2 separate regions of the Homo sapiens genome follow, and region 2 is linked to region 1. The links come from fine-mapping of genetic effects on plasma protein levels. Region 1 holds a variant in brackets. A gene starts in the other region. All regions are shown on their reverse strands.

Region 1 (8,000 bases):
AATTGTCTCCCTTCTTACCTTTTTTTCTTTTTACCTTTTTCCAGGGTTGGGAGGAAGGGAAGGCAGGAATTGGTGACTGCAGTTCTTTCCTATAGGTCAAGGTTTGGGAGACTTTTAGATTGAGCAATTCAGTGGTTGCAGGTTATCTTGCAGGGCAGAGCAAAGGCAGGAATCATACATGCCTTTGCCCATGCCTGTGCCCATTCATGAGTGTGAGTGCATACACGCTAAGCAGCAAGTTAGTGCTGTCTTCATCTTATAATGGAAAGGACAGATTTTTTGGAGAATGAGGATTATAAAACACTTTTCCCTTCCCTACTTGTCTGCTAAATTACTAAGACTGTATGTTTGGGAGCTGAAGTTCGGTTAAGTCATATTTTACATTCTTGCCAACTAATCCTTTTTTTTAATTATCACCTAACACCATGCAGACCCAAGGGAGGAAAGGTTTCAGACACTAGGAAGAGTGGAGCAGTTGAAGGACAGAAGATTCCAATTGCACACACCTTTTTTGAGCCCCTACTACATATCAGGCAATGTGGCCAATGCAGGACCTCAGTGGTCTTTAACAACTCTGTCCCTTTGCTCCTGGGACTTCTCATCTAGTAGGGAAGCCAGCCCTTGAACAAGAGTGTAGAAAATACATCTGCCTGTGGTGAAACCCCGTCTCTACTAAAAATACAAAAAAATTAGCTGGGCGTAGTGGCGGGCACCTATAATCCCAGCTACTCAGGAGGCTGAGGCAGAGAATTGCTTGAACCGGGGAGGTGGAGGTTGCAGTGAGCCAAGATCGCGCCACTGCAGTCCAGCCTGGGCAACAGAGCGAGACTCCGTCTCAAAAATAAATAAATAAATAAATAAATAAATAAATAAATAAATAAATAAATATTAAAAATTTAAAAATAAAAATAACAACAACAACAAAGAAAATACATCTTCCTGTTCCACAGTGTTTCCTGGGGCTTAGCCTAGGAGTGACCTACAGAATCATCTCTGTAGGCTGCAGACCCTGTTTCTGTAAACATGAGGATGTATAATGGCATCTTAGGACAGCAGTTTTTACCTGTGAATGCAATTATGGCATTAACCTTATGCTGTTACTCTAAGAAGTTCAAAAATACTGCTCTAAGAAGCAAGAATTAAAATGAAATGTGTTTTTTTATTATAAGAGCCAAAGATTCGGATATGGACTCTTATCTCAGAGATTGCTTCAATATATAGAAGCTATTTAGAAGGGGGTCATGTAAGCCAAAGACAAAACTTGTATTGCTCAAAAGAGGAAGAGCTTTTTACAAATTCACTAATAACTCTTTCATAAGAACTGTAACCATTTGCTACTTTGAAATGAAAAGGGTTCCTCTTATAAACTAATAGAAACTATTGAGCAGAAGTGATTACTGACACTTAAAGGTAGAAAATGGAAATAAGAATCTGGTAAGTTATAGGCATGTTTGCCAGATTCCTTGAATTGTTTGGTCATTTAAATGCTGCGAGGATGTATATATCAAAAGGGCTTAGGTCTAAAATGATTTTCACTAGAAAAACCAGTAAGTCAGTCTTAAGACTTTTCTATGGCAAATTTATAATTTGAGGCGTTTCTCTCTTTTCCCCTCATTTTAGCTTGTCAAAATTCCCAAAAATGATCCCCTCAATGAAGTTCATAACTTTAACTTTTATTTGTCAAATGTGGGCAAAGACAACCCTCAGGGCAGCTTTGACTGCATCCAGCAAACATTCTCCAGGTAAGTACTTTTCAAGGTACACTGAAGGGGAAAAATTTTTTATTTAAGAGGGTTTTAGAAAATTAAACAATACAATACATAATATTCATCCATAAACGTGTATTAAATTGAATTACAGAGCTCATTTATTTATCTGAAAAATATTAAGCACCTACTGTGTAATAGAAATTTCATTTGTAATGGGGATATAATCACAACAGTTCAAAGATTTTTGGTCTAATGGGGCTTTTAAGGTACAGAAGATATTTTTTAACCTATAAAAATGCAGTTTTTGAAAACTAAAGGCAATTTGAGGATTTTTTTTAGAAATATTTAATTCATTGAATTTAAGCAAGAATCTTATAGCATATTTGAGGCTCATACTCCAGGGTAAAGAAGTTAAAAATATCCATCTTGCATGCTTTCTTCCTTCTTCCCTGTTCAAGCCATGTTCTAAGGTAGAAGGTAGATTTTTAAACATCTTTATTCTACAGCTGCATGGAAACTAGAAATTAACCCAGTAAAGCAGTCTCTCCTTCTTCTTAAAAAAAAAGAAAAAAAAAAAAAGGAGGAGGAAGACAAGAATATACACACCCACACCCTAGGGTACCATGGGACGCTTATCTACTTAGATCCTCTGTAAACAATAAGCCACTTGTTTCACTCTTCATTGCTTTGGTTGTTTCTGATTAAAGAATAGGCCCTTGAGCAGGAGTTTGTTCTGCCCCTGGATATAGACAAGGGAGGTTAGGGTCTCTCTCATTTCCTCCTCATGTAAGGCTTTGACATTAGCCCCAAGTACCCTAGACCAGCGTATCTCTGTGACTTATCTGTGCAGTACTTGAAACTATGTAAGTACTTGCTCAATGTGGGGGAAAAGAAGAAGCAAAGTTGTGTTTCCAGCAGGTACAGGAGGCAGAGATACAAAATAAGACACTGACAGAGTTTTACCTTTATCCTCCCATTTAAGGTGTCTACGTAACTTTTTGTTATTTAATCTGTCATTTTCCCCAAGGATATATTCATGTTGCTTTCTGAAAATTACCCACCTTCAAACTTAAATGTTTTGGCATAAATTGCTATATTGTAGATTATATAGACTTTTCTGTGCTGTCCACTGTGATGGCCACTGGCCACATTGGCTATTTACATTTCAACTGATAAAAAATTAAATAAAATTTAAAACATCATTGCACATTCACACTAACCACATTTTGTGGTCTCAGTAGCTACCTGTTACTATCATAGTAGACAGCACAGTTATATAACATTTTCACTCTTGCAAAATGTTCTATTGATCAGCACTATGATAGATTATAGAATCACCAAGTATTAGGGTCCTTAGTGATTGTGTGAGTCAATCCCTTCATTTCACAGGTGATTTATCCAGAGTTATGTAGCTGGTTAGTTAGTGGCTAGGCTAAATGAGAACTGAGTTCTTCTAATTCCCACCCCAGTATTCTTTACACACAACATGGTACACTAATTTTTAATTGTGGTGCTTGTCTCTAGATTGTTGTTTTATTATAGTGAGCACATTTTGATATCAAATTGAACAATGTCCCCTTAGGAATTTTATTAAGGAGCTTAATCCTCTCTTCAAAAGCATTCATATCATTGTAAGTAATATGGCTTTACTCTTACATTATAAATACCCTGTGTGGTTATTTCTACCTTCCTTGTTTGGAAA[G/AG]GATTTAAGGTCACTTACAAAACTATGTATGATGCAGTAAGAGAATAGAAACACTTATTGTGAAAATATTGGGGCAAATGTATCCCCTCTGTATAATCCAAGGTGCCTTATAAAATGAGGTAGTAAGGGTATAAATTGAAGTCTGCCACTAGGAAAACAAAAGCACTAGCTTTTGTTCTCAGGCTTTCACTTCACAGCCTGGCAAGCTGACCTGTCCATAATCTGGCTTCACCTTTTCCATTCAATTTAATTTCCATTTTCCTTATGGATCTTTTCTCTCTGACCACAGTGCATGCTCTTCAAGGTCAGAGGCTTTCTTATGCCCTTTTTCTAATTTCACAGTGCTGACTGAGCTCAAAATACATGCTTATTGACTCAACCTGGAGATAAAAGGGTAAAAACAGATGCTCAGTAAATAAATGTTCAACAAATACAAATTAACTAGTCTTCTTATCTATATTTTTAAACTTCCTTGATTCTCACTTTTCTCATATATAAAATGAAATCAATGTCACAGTCAAAATTGCCTTTCAAAAATTCCTTAAGTCTACCCATTTTCAGACTTAGTGAAAAATATATAGTCTAGGACCTATAGTGTATAATAATGCACACTTAAGCGAAGGAAATGGTGAGCTAGGCTAGAGAAAGACTAAGGGAGCATTTATATACATTTGTCTAAAATATTTAAACTTTCAGGGTAACTCGGTTGAGAAGGGATGAGTGAAGAATTCTAGAGAGTACCTTCTTGCCTACAGCGTTTAGCTCCGTTTGTTTTGCATAAAGATCTGTTTTCTGACTTCGCATGAGGGGCAGTATGTTCAGCTTATTCTCACTATGTAAATTACTTAGTAAATAATAGGAAGAGATGTTGAAATACAAACTTTCTGCCACCAGACCTTCACTCTATTGCAGTCATTTTCTCCCACTCTCCCCCCTCTCTCCCACTTCCTCTGAGGATTACCTTCCCCTCTCTCAGCATTCCTCTGTCAGTGGGTTTTTTTTTTTTCCTTTGGCATGCAAACATGCTCAAGTCTGTCTTATTAAAAAAGAAAATAAAAAACAAAAACAACCTCTCTTACATTCACTTCTCAACCCAAAGTCTGGCTTCAGTGCCCACCATTCCACTGAAACTGCTTCCCCAAGGGAGCTGTGACCTCCCTGCCCCCAAAATCCAGTGGATGTGTTATTGGTTCCTTATTATTCTGGACTTGTTGCCAGTGTTGCACACTGTTGACCACTCTCTCCTGCTTGAAGCGTCTGTTCCAGTGGCTTACATTACACAGTACTCTTCTGGTTTCCTTCCTACCTCTGTAGCTGTGGCTTTTCAGTCTCATGTGGTCTTCTTTTCTTCCTTTTGCTTAAATACTAGTGTTCTTCACAGTTGGTTCCCTCCTGAGACCCCTTCTCTCCTCATTCCTTCAAGGTCACCATCTCCAACACTGAACTTATGTTCTTTGTCCCAGTCCTGTCTCCCAACCTGTCCTTCATCTTGTGTTCAGTGTTTCAGTACATAGCAGCTTCCATATACCTCGTGACCTGGGCATGATCTTTAACTTTTTTCCCCCACCTCTCTCTGAGTGTGGCTAACTACTGACCACGTTTTGTCAGTTCCACTTCCTCACTATCTCTGGAAGCTGTGTACTATTCTACACTCTCACTGCCCTACTCTGGTTCATGCCATCACTGCTTGCCTGTAATCCTTCAGTAGCATCCTAAGTGGCCTCTTTTCTTTCCTTCTGGTGTCCCCCTTCCTCTCAATCTATCCTCCATCCAGATTGAGCTTTCTGCAATACAAATGAGTTATTTTCTCTCCCCTGATTTCAGCCTCTCGTTATCCTTTGGATAAGGTCCAAAACCTGTAACACATGACCCTCAGAGCCCTTTGTGATGTATTTCTCATTCCCTCTTCAGCTTCAGCTGTAATTGTCCTTCCCAACTTTCTTTGGACAATTTGAAAACCTTCTTTTTGCTCTTCCTGGCCCTGCACAGATTAGTTGTCCTCCCTGAACACTTTCATTCTTCTTCCCCCTTGCCCAGTCATCTTTCTAGATCACCTCAGGCATCACCTCCTCTGGGAAGTCCAGGTGAGATTACCTTTCTGGGAGTCCTCTGCTCCCTGGAATTTGTCACACTGTGTTATGATTTCCAGTTTGTCCATCCTTGTCACCCATTAGTTCCTTGAAAGAGGGACCACAACTGTTAGTTCTTGTCACAACCTCTCTGCTTCACACATTGCTAGGCATGCAGTCCCTGCCCAATAAATATTTATGAGATGAATTAACTGGTTTTTGTGTGTGTGTTTTTCTTAAATAGCATTTGTAAAGACAGTTATTAGCAATTTATAAAGATTTTATCAGCCAGGTGCGGTGGCTCACGCCTGTAATCCCAGCACTTTGGGAGGCCAAGGCGAGTGTTCATGAGGTCAAGAGATCAAGACCATCCTGGCCAACATGGTGAAACCCTGTCTCTACTAAAAATACAAAAATTAGCTGGGCATGGTGGCATGTGCCTGTAGTCCCAGCTACTTGGGAGGCTGAGGCAGGAGAATCACTTGAACCCGGGAGGCAGAGCTTGCAGTGAGCCAAGATTGCACCACTGCACTCCAGCCTGGCAACAGAGCGAGACTCCATCTCAAAAAAAAATTATCAACCTTTATTTCTTTGTATTATAACAAAGTTACTTCTAATTAAGTTTGGATATAGATGATCAGAGCTGTAGTGTCACTTTCATTAGTTTTATATTCCAGTTTGTTTTCAGGCCATAGCAATTTCTTTATAAAATACCAGTTATGACTGTGACCATGATCCCCCTAATATTAACATGTTACTTTGAAACAGAGCCATCTTCTAGGTCCATGTTAATATTCATGATTATTTCAATAAAAAGTGTTTTGTTCTGTTTTGTTTTTTTGAGATGGGGTCTCATTCTGTTGCCCAGGCTGGAGTGCAGTGGCGCCATCTCAGCTTACTGCAACCTTCACATCCTGGGCTCAAGAGACCCTCCCACTTCAGTCTCCTGACTAGCTGGAACTTCAGGCACACGCCACCATGCCCAGCTAATTTTTGTAGAGATGGGGTTTCTCCATGTTGCCCAGGCTGGTCTCAAACTCCTGAACTCAAGCAATCCACCTGCCTTGGCCTCCCAAAGTGTTGGGATTACAGGGATGAGCCACCGTGCCTGGCCTTTAAAAAAAAATTGCTATAAAAATCATTTGCCCTGTGTTTTCTTCAACATTTGCTAATAAGTAGGTCATCTTATATAGAGATTTAACAAAGTAAATACAAATTCTGCAAATTTTTAGGAACTTTTTGGACTAATAATATTAAAGTAAGCTTTAATTTTTGTCAGTATGTTAGCCTTAAAATTAATATATTATTTAAAATAAAAAAGAATGTGTGGTGAGTCCGTTTCAACTAGTCAGTCCAGACCATGTATATTGTGGTTTTACTAAAACTAAACTTTTTAACTTTCCTCATATCAGTGTTAGATAATTCTTTAAAATAGTTAACAGTTAAATAAAACAACTACAATGCCCATCAGAACTCTGGTCTCACTCTAAATACTGATTTTTTTTCTTTTTCAAAATTTTATGGATTTGGTCTCTGAGAGCTCACTTCATCCATTATATAAAGAATATGAAAAAAAGTGAAGAGAAGGATCTTAGATATTTTAAATAGCATTTACATTTAAAAATTAATATTAGTTATTTTAGGATTGCAAACTTAGTTGGGCTGCTGATTTTAGGATTATATAATTCTTGTTTGCCTTTATTGTACAAAATGAAGGTCATGTCTAACAAAGCCACTGACTTACTTGACAGCTCTGGAGCCTCCCAGCTCAATTGCCTGGGATTTATACAAGATAAAATTACAGTGTGTGCAACAAACGACTCGTATCAGATGACACGAGAAAGAATGACCCAGGCAGAGGAGGAATCCCGCAACCGAAGCACAAAAGTTATCAAACCCGGTGGACCATATGTAGGTTTGTATAGATATCTTTCTTCCTCTTGCTGATTGATTGGAGTAATTCAAGATCACCATAGGTAAATACCAGTAATATTAACTTAATGAAAACACAGAAACTAGTTTTCAGAACATTTTGGATAACATGGTGAGAAAAACAAAGTTATTTGTTCTCTTCAGACTGCCAGTAAATTGAAGAGCATATTTTAAAGTTCTATGACTTTCCTAAATCCTGAATCTTCGTTGGCTACTTACTATTATTTTATAGTACTGGGATCTGGTCACATTACTGCGTGAAGTTGCAATCGTGGTACCGTTGTGTTTTCTTTGTCACTAGATGATGTAATTTCAGTGATGGATACTATGGTTCTTGTTTTGCCTTTTTGTAGGGCTATTTTTATAGTAAAATCTATTAGTAGAATTTATGGGTTGATAATCTCATTGTTGTAGATTTTGCTTACATTTTCAGAGCATCTTTGTACAACAAGGATTTTTCATTACAAAAATATAAAATGTGCTTATAGCAAAGCATTACAACAGAGCATTAGACTGATGTCTCTTTGGTTCCTCAGTTGTGATCCTCATCCTCATCTATCCATTAATTAAGACCCTATCCGACCCCCA
Region 2 (8,000 bases), not on the chromosome of region 1:
CCCAGCCCACTGCACCCTGGCCTCCCACAAGCCCCCTCGCAGCCGCCCAGCCACACTCACTGTGCACTCAGCCGTCGATACACTGGTCTGTTAGGGAGAAAGTCCGTCAGAACAGGCAGCTGTGTGTGTGTGTGCGTGTATGAGTGTGTGTGTGTGATCCCTGACTGCCAGGTCCTCTGCACTGCCCCTGGGCAGCCCCTGCCCCACCTGGCCCAGCTGCAGAAGATATGGGGGTTCCTTTCAGAGATGGGGCAACAGAGGGGTGGATGGCAGGGCAGGGGATGTGGGAGAAAGGCCTGGGGAGGGGCTGCCCTGAGTGAGGCCCAGCTCCCAGGCTCCTCGGGCACCCAGGTCTCCTGCCTGTTTACCAGTCCAGGCAGTCTCTCAGCCTGGGGGAGGCCAGTGGCTCTCTGAATGGCCTGGCTGGAGCCTCCTGCCCAAGCCAGGCTCCCTGGAGTCAAGGACAGCTCCCAAGTCAGTGGTGAGCAAGTCCCCAGGGGAGAGAGGACAGCCAGGACAGCAAAACCCAGGGTGACGAGGCCTGGGAGGGTCGGGGGAGATGGCCCAGAACAAGGGGGCCTGGGAGGGTGGCCAGAGGTGTCAGGCCAGTGAGACTGAGAAATGGATACTCAGGCCTGGGCCTGAAATCCTTGTCTGGGCAGACCCGGGCTAAACTGCCAGGAAAGAGCACTTGCGGCCTGGGTCCCTGGGAGTCCCATAGACCCTGGGGTGGGGCACAGTCTTCCTGGGCCCAGAGTGGCTTCCAAGGAGCTCCTGGACCATCCACTGCTCCAGTGACTGAAGCTGAGGACGGAGTCCCTCCTCTCCCTGATCCCTGGTAGGGAAGCATCCTGCCTGAACAGTCCCCATGTCCCCGTCCCCTCATCCAGACTGGCCATTACCGATTGGGACAGGGAAGACGATGTGGTTTTCAGGGAGGCCCAGAGATTTGGAGAAGCGGATGAAGTTCTCCTTTAGTTCCGAAGTCAGCTCCTTGGTTCTCCCTGTGACCAAGATGGCCAGTGAGTGGCTGGCAGACACCACATAAATATCGTTGAATGAGTAGATGAGGCCTCAGATCCCTTCCTCATGGGGGACCGGCCTCCCCTCCCACTAAGTGTGATCAGGAGCCAGTCCCCGAGGGGATGGGAGAGGACCCACCGTAGAGGGTGATCTTGAAGTACTCCCTGTTTTGAGAAACTTTCTTGAAGAACACCATAGCATGCTGGTTGTAGTTGGTGCTCACCACTCGGACGAGGTAACTCGTTAATCCAGGGTAACCTGCAGGCGTGGACGGTGAGGGGTCAGCCCTGCCCTGGATGGGAGGAGGGAGCTGTCCCCTCCCTCCCCAGCCCATCAACGTGGGCTTCTCCCCATACAACACATCTGTGTGGAGGGGCAGGAAGGTCTGTGCCCCTACCCAGCTCCCCGGAGCCCCAACTCAGTGCCCCACCTCACTCAAGACTCACTCTTAATGTTGCCCAGCGTGAACTCGCCGGGCTGGCAACCTGGAACAAAAGTCCTGATCCAGTAGTCACACTTCTTTTTCCTTGGGAGGGAGAGATGGGTGGGTGAGAGGGGAGACAACCCAGGCTTGGGCCTCCTGTGCTGGACAAGGTGGGGCCAGGGCAGCAGCAGGGTTCTGTTGCTCTCAGTCCGGCCCAACCCGTGACAGCTCATCCCCCACTACCTGGAGGGGCCCTACCCCACCCAGCCGAGATGGGCCTGGGCCTTCTCCCTGAGCTGACACCAGGCTGTCCCTCCTGGCCTGCCTGGGGCCCCTGGACCCCACTCAGACCCTCCAGCACCCGATGTCCTTCTTTCCTTTGGCTGCCTCCCTGGGTGGCTTTCACCCCCCCCGCCACCCAACACACAGAAACCCTGCATTTCTCCCCTGCACTCAGCTTGCTGCTTCCCTTCCTATACCCTCTCCCGGGGATCCACCTCGGTACTTCCAGTCTGCTCCATGCCAGCCGTTCCCCTAGCTCTCGGGTCAAACCTGACCCCATCCTTGAGTCCTCCCACTTCCCATCCCCTGGCACCCCAGGGCTGAGCTCCCCAACCTGTCTGTATTCTGCTCCTTGCTCCACAAATGCCCCAATCCCAATCCACTCAGCTGCCAGAGTCAGAAACCCACTGGGGGCGGCTGATCCCTGGCTCCCTGCCTCTTCACCCTGCGCCTGTTCTCTCACACCTGTGACGGCCCCGCTTCACTTTCGCTGGTCTCCCGACCCCCTAGGCTGCACCCCACCAAGTCTCCCCACCCTGCGGCCCAAGAGCCCTGCTCTAAGCCACTCCGCAGCAGATCCGCTGGGGCGGGGCCTGAGGACCGTGCTAGGTGCTAGCGTGGCCACCTGCCCCTCCAGGCTGCTCAGCAGCTCTGCTCAGGGTGACCCTGCGATGGCTTGCTCCTTCCTGAAGGGGGGGCTCTCTCTGACTCCAGCCCCTGCCGGGAACACCCCACATTTCCTTTTGAAGCAGGTTGGCTCTTTTAAGGCCACCTCCCTGGAAGCCTTCCATGAAGGCACTGGGTGGGGTTCCAGGCTGGATCCAGTGTCCCCTCCTCCCGCTCCCAGGCACCCCTCCTCTCTCCGTCTTGTTTTCTAACGACTGTGCATGTCCATCCCCACCACTGTCTGTGTGTCTGCATGGAAATGTGCTATAAACGTTGCTCTAAGGAACAGAGGAAGGATGAACACAGATGAATTCCGGGCAGAACAGCGAGGTGAACGACAGGATCCCTCAGCTTTGGCCATCCCTTGCCTGTGACGTCAGTCTGACTCTCACACCCCCAGGAGATGTCGGCCCTCACCTAAACAGGACGGAGGTGACATTGTAGCTCTTGTCTTCTTTCAGCTCATAGATGGTGGCATACATCTTTTGCGGGTCTTTGTCTTCTCTGAGAATTGCATTCCCTGCCAGGCCTACCACATACCACTTCCCCTGGAACTGCAAGGGACTGATAAGAGGCACAACCCAGGAATGGCCCTAGGAGCCACCCCTCCAGCTCTGTCCCTGTGGCACCTCTGGGCCGCCCAGCTTGGAACCATGAGCCCCTCTAGCTGGGCAGCAGGGCCCAGGCTGGGCCTGCACTGGTGAAGGGGCAGGAGCAGGAGGCCATCAGTCCAGAAGGGAGTCCTGGGGGAAGAGGCGGTTCTGAGTCTGGCAGGGAGGAGGGTGACCTCCTCACTGGAGGAGGCATGTGGCTGGTGGGCCTTCCTGAGCCTCAGTTTCCTCATCTGTGCAGGGGGACTAAAAGTGCTCCCACCTTCTTTGGACAATGGGGGTTATGGGAGAGGGGATGTGGACCTGGGGGAGTCTGTTCAGGCTGAGAGGGGGTGGGGATGGGGGGAAGGGGCATGGTTTCCACCAGGGGACCCTGGTGGCACAGAGTGAGCTGAAACCTGGACCCTGGACTCCTAGAGTCCTGCCCAACGCTCTTCCTGAGTCTCTTCACCTCTCCTCCCCTCTGCTCCCACTCTTCCCCAGGCCCTGCCTGCAGGTGCCCCTCTTGGCCCCTTACTTGGTTGTCCTGGAAGTTCTGCTGCAGAGGGACCTTGCTCAGAGGTGGGGCTGGGATCAGGTCTGAGGTGGAGTCCTGGGCCTGGGCATGCAGAGCCCCCAACAGGGCTAGGCCCAGCCACAGGAGACCTAGGGGCATGATTTCAGGGCCGAGGAAGCAGGCGCTGTGGTGGCTGCTGGGCCTGGCAGGGGTGGAAGAGGAGGTGGCGAGTGAGAGGCTCACCTGGGTGGCCCTATTTATGGGATCTAGGGTGGGTTGATTCATTCTTTGCCAAGGCCAGGAATGTGAGGCAATTGCCAGCAACTCCTGCGGAAACACTTGGCAAGATTTCTGCACCTGGTCAGGATTGGGCAAGACAGAGGGACGGGGAGAGTGAGGGACATTCCCGGAGTGCTGCACCTCTGGCAGGGACAACGACTCCCTCTGTGCCTTCCTTGTGCTGTTTCTTTCTTCTGATTGCCCTGTATGTGGGCCGGTGGCCTGTGAGCCGGAAGAGCTGTCATCTCTGACCCCCCTGCTCAGCTGGATCCCAGGGTGGGGTATGTGCCCTGTGGTCCCCTCCCCACACCCACAGAAAGGAAAGAATGAATGCCTCCTTCCAACAGATCATGTGCTGTTTCCTGGTTCTTTTAAGGGTCAGGGAAGGGTGGGGTGGCTGACAGTGGACAAGGAAAAACAAGGCGTCTGCTCTGAACTCATGGAGCCCAGAATCATGGCCCTCCCAGGAGCCCCAGTCCAGGACCTGCATGTGCTCCAGGGGCCTTGAGACAGCCCCTTGCCCCTCTCCTTGCCCCATTTGCAGGAGGGGACCCCAGTGGACCCCTGAGGGACCCTTCCTCTCCTGTGAGTGCAGTGGGAAGAGACCCCACACAGGGCACATGGGTTGAGTGCTGAGGCTACAGTCCCTGTCCTGGGTGAGTTGGGCTGATGTGTGGGGGCGTGAAGGCGCCACACTGCTGCTCTGGACACCTGTTGCTTTGGGTCACTGACAGTGCAAGGATCTGGCCTTATCCTTGAGGTCACTGAGACCATCCCCCTGACTCTAGTCACAGCCTTTTTCCATTGAACCCAGCAGCCCAGGCCAGGGGTTCTGGAACTGTCACCGAGATGGCTGGTCCCAGCCTTGTCCAGCAGGGAAGCAGTTATCTCAACGGGGGCCTGGCTGGCATCCTCGGGAGGCAGCGATGGATCGTAGGCCCTGTGCAGTGTCCGCAGAGATGGCTCACCCATGAGGGCTGAGGCCGTCCTGGATGCCTGACCTGAGGCTGGACTGAGGGTTCGCTGGTTTTAGAGCTTTCAATGGGACTAACGGGGACCTCACTGGCTCTGCCTACGTGCTGCTTGGGATCCCCAATCTGGGCTTGGGGGCAGCAGGGCCTCAGGGAAGGGGCTCTGGGAGTCCTGAGCTGGGGTTAGTCTAGAGAGGCACCCACTGGATCCCTGCCCCCTCAGGCCCTGTCCTGCCTGCCCGATTGGATGATGAAAGGGCAGGAAGCAAAGATGAGTAAAACTGCAGGGGAACGATGTTGCACCAAAGCCTTCCCTTTCTAGAGGTAGCCAGTGGCTACTCGCTCCCTCCGAACCCCCTCTTCCCCTCATGACCCTGTTCCCAGGAACTCCACCTCTGCTACTGTCTTTGACCTTAAAAAGTATCCTCTGCCAGGCCGGGTGCGGTGGCTCACATCTGTAATCCCAGCATTTGGGAGGCTGAGGCGGGTGGATCACGAGGTCAGGAGTTCGAGACCAGTCTGGCCAACACGGTGAAACCCCATCTCTACTAAAAATACAAAAATTAGCAGGGCATGGTGGCAGGCGCCTGTAATCCCAGCTACTCGGGAGGCTGAGGCAGAAGAACAGCTTGAACCTGGGAGGCGGAGGTTGCAGTGAGCCGAGATCACGCCTTTGCACTTTAGCCTGGAACAGAGCGATATTCTGTCTTAAAAAAAAAAAAAAAAAGGTATCCTCGGCTGGGCGCAGTGGCTCTCGCCTGTAACTCCAGCACTTTGGGAGACTGAGGCGGGTGGATAACCTGAGGTCAGGTGTTCAAGACCAGCCTGACCAACATGGTGAAACCCTGTCTCTAGTAAAAATACAAAGATTAGTTGGGCATGGTGGCGCATGCCTGTAATCCCAACTACTCGGGAAGCTGAGGCAGAAGAATTGCTTGAACCTGGGAGGCGGAGGTTGCAGTGAGCCAAGGTTGCGCCATTGCACTCCAGCCTGGGCGACAGAGGGAGACTCCATCTCGGGGAAAAAAAAAATGTATCCTCAGGGACTAGCCTGGCCAATATGGCAAAACCCCGTCTCTACTAAAAATACAAAAATTAGCCAGGTGGGGTGATGCATGCCTATGATCCCAACTACTCAGGAGGCTGAGGCAGGAGAATGGCTTGAACCCGGGAGGCGGAGGCTGCAGTGAGCCAAGATCGCACCACTGCACTCCAGCCTGGGAGACAGAGTGAGACCCTGTCTGAAAAAAGAAAAAAAAAACCACGTATCCTCGGGGAGGCTGAGGTGGGAGGATCACTTGGGCCCAGGAAGCCGAGGCTGCAGTGAGCTATGATTGTGCCACTGCACTCCAGCCTGGATGATAGAGTGACCTAAATCTAAAAAGTACCCTCTAGTCTACGGTGACTGCTTCACGTAGCTGAGACCAGCGGGTGGAGCCCCAGAGAATTTGAAGTTGGGGGTGAGGCAGTGTCATGGATCTCTGAGGACCCAGGACTCCAGGGTATGAATGTGGTGGGTGAGCAGGGCACTGGGTCCACAGTGGGAAGACACCAGAGCCAGGTGCAGAAGGGGAGATAGTCCCGCTTGGGGGTCCCCCAGGCTGGCTTGAAGCCTGGCTCCTCCGCATGCATGCAGATCTCTGCCTAGCTCCCACACAAATCAGGCGCTCCTCTGTAGAGAGGGCAGCTCTGCGCTTCTGTGAGGTCATGCATGGACAGCACCGGGCCCCAGGGTGTCCCTACACAAGGCTGAGTTTCTGATCAAACCCATGCAGGGCTCATTCCTCTCTCTGCACCAGCTCCAGACCTGTCTCCTACCCACTGGCCTTGGCTCTCTTCAGAGTCTAGCAGGGCTGCAGGGAGGGGGTCAGCTCTACATAGACCCACCACACAAGCTTCAGGACTCAGCACTAGGAAGGTTGGGTAAGGACTGTGGTGTAGACCTCCCATTCAGACTTGACCGACTCCAAGGGCTCCAGGGTCAACAGGACACTGGGGCCCCATTCCTCACCCACCCCCTTTCCACTGGGCCCCATTCATTGGGCCCTAGCCAATGAGGGTACACAAGTGTTCACACTGCTCAGCGCTTGGGGGAGTCCCTGGACCCCGGGGCTCTTGGGACAATCTCCACGACACGTGTGGCACTGTGCATGGCATGACAGGCACCCACCTGCCTCCCCTCGGCCCCTCCTATGGTTTCCACCGTGGCCCCTGGACTGGGCCTGCTTTCTCTCAAGGAGCTGCAGGTGCCTCTAGTGAGCCCTCAACGAGCCACACAGAAGCAATGGGGCCAAGCCCCTCCTGAGAGGAGCTGGGCTGGGCTCCCAAGTCCTGCTGTGCAGGTCGGCTTAGCAACAGCAGGAGCTTAAAGACAGGTCCCTGCCTGGGTTTTCCGTGGCCAGAGACCAGAAGTACTCCGGCTGCTCCCGACCTCCCCTCGCAGTCTCTGGCAGGCAGCTGTCCCCACTCTCCACGCCCAAGAGTGGGTGCTCCCTGGAGACTGCAGCAGCCTGTCCTCCCATGGAGAGGCCCAGGTCTCATCCATGCATGAAGGCAGCAAGATGCTTCCTGGCGGTCCTTACATCTCAGGAATCCAGTCTGACTCCCCATTCTGGTTTCCGGATCTTGTGAGTAGTGTTCAGCGTGGCCATGAATGGTTAACCCTCTGACGTGTTTGAAGGCTGGGCAGGAGGTGACTGGCTAGGCTTCTAGGAGCCAGGTACCACACCTGGAAGGAGTCTACAGTCAAGATGCCCCCAGGAGGCCCAGTCACAGATGCAGGAAGTCTTGGTGTCTGCAGATCAGCTCTCCTTGGTCACGGCAGGTCCGGGCTGGGCACCCGACTCTCAAACACCCAGGAACGGGAGGGGCTGTTTAGTGTGAGGAGCTTGCCCTGCCAGGGTCTTGGGCTGAGTCTCCTGTTTCCAGAAACAGTTTTCCAACCCCCATCCTCTCTCATGCCAAGGCTCGCCAAGGGGCCTTGAGGTCCTCCTGCCCCTTCTACCTGACAGGGACCCTGCCCGCCTGTGAAAATCCCCTCCCAACCCTCCCCCAAGTACACCCACTGGATTCCTCCCTCTGGTGAACCCCTGGGGTCCACCAGACAGGGGGAAGCGGGCCCTGCTGCTTGAGGTCTAGGCCCAGGGCCCTTGCTGGTTCCATCCCTTGGTGCCTGGCCCAGGCATGCTGCTTAGATGGGTGCTCTGCCTTTTACTCCAGAGCCTGGACTCCTATGCGGGCAAGAGGGC

Direction of the effects. Positions count from the first base shown, and alleles are read on the strand shown. Strength reflects both the effect of a copy and how common the allele is.
In carriers of allele G in region 1, the plasma level of the protein whose gene starts at base 3,734 in region 2 tends to be lower than with AG alone (weak association).

Evidence for each region. A credible set is the group of variants that fine-mapping cannot tell apart. PIP is the posterior inclusion probability: the model's chance that the variant is causal. The UK Biobank Pharma Proteomics Project read protein levels with antibody pairs (Olink). The fine-mapping took linkage between variants from a reference panel, not from the people measured, so its PIPs are less certain.
Region 2: it holds the start of LCN2, and the variant in region 1 is the best candidate, but not a certain one, in a credible set for the plasma level of the LCN2 protein (UK Biobank, PIP 0.59).

Annotation. Positions count from the first base shown.
Region 1 is chr5:95,913,166-95,921,165 of GRCh38, reverse strand. ELL2 (elongation factor for RNA polymerase II 2) reads left to right here. Exons shown (of 12, transcript NM_012081.6): 3 at 1,621-1,742; 4 at 7,232-7,395. Among named protein-coding and RNA genes, the nearest start is that of ELL2, 45 kb to the left of the region's middle. The variant G/AG (reference allele first, on the strand shown) is at 3,412.
Region 2 is chr9:128,145,187-128,153,186 of GRCh38, reverse strand. LCN2 (lipocalin 2) reads right to left here and starts at 3,734. Exons shown (of 7, transcript NM_005564.5): 1 at 3,524-3,734; 2 at 2,813-2,949; 3 at 1,470-1,549; 4 at 1,162-1,281; 5 at 903-1,004; 6 at 61-87. The coding sequence starts at 3,661. The coding sequence ends at 68. RefSeq lists a silencer at 2,335-2,384 and an enhancer at 6,514-7,013.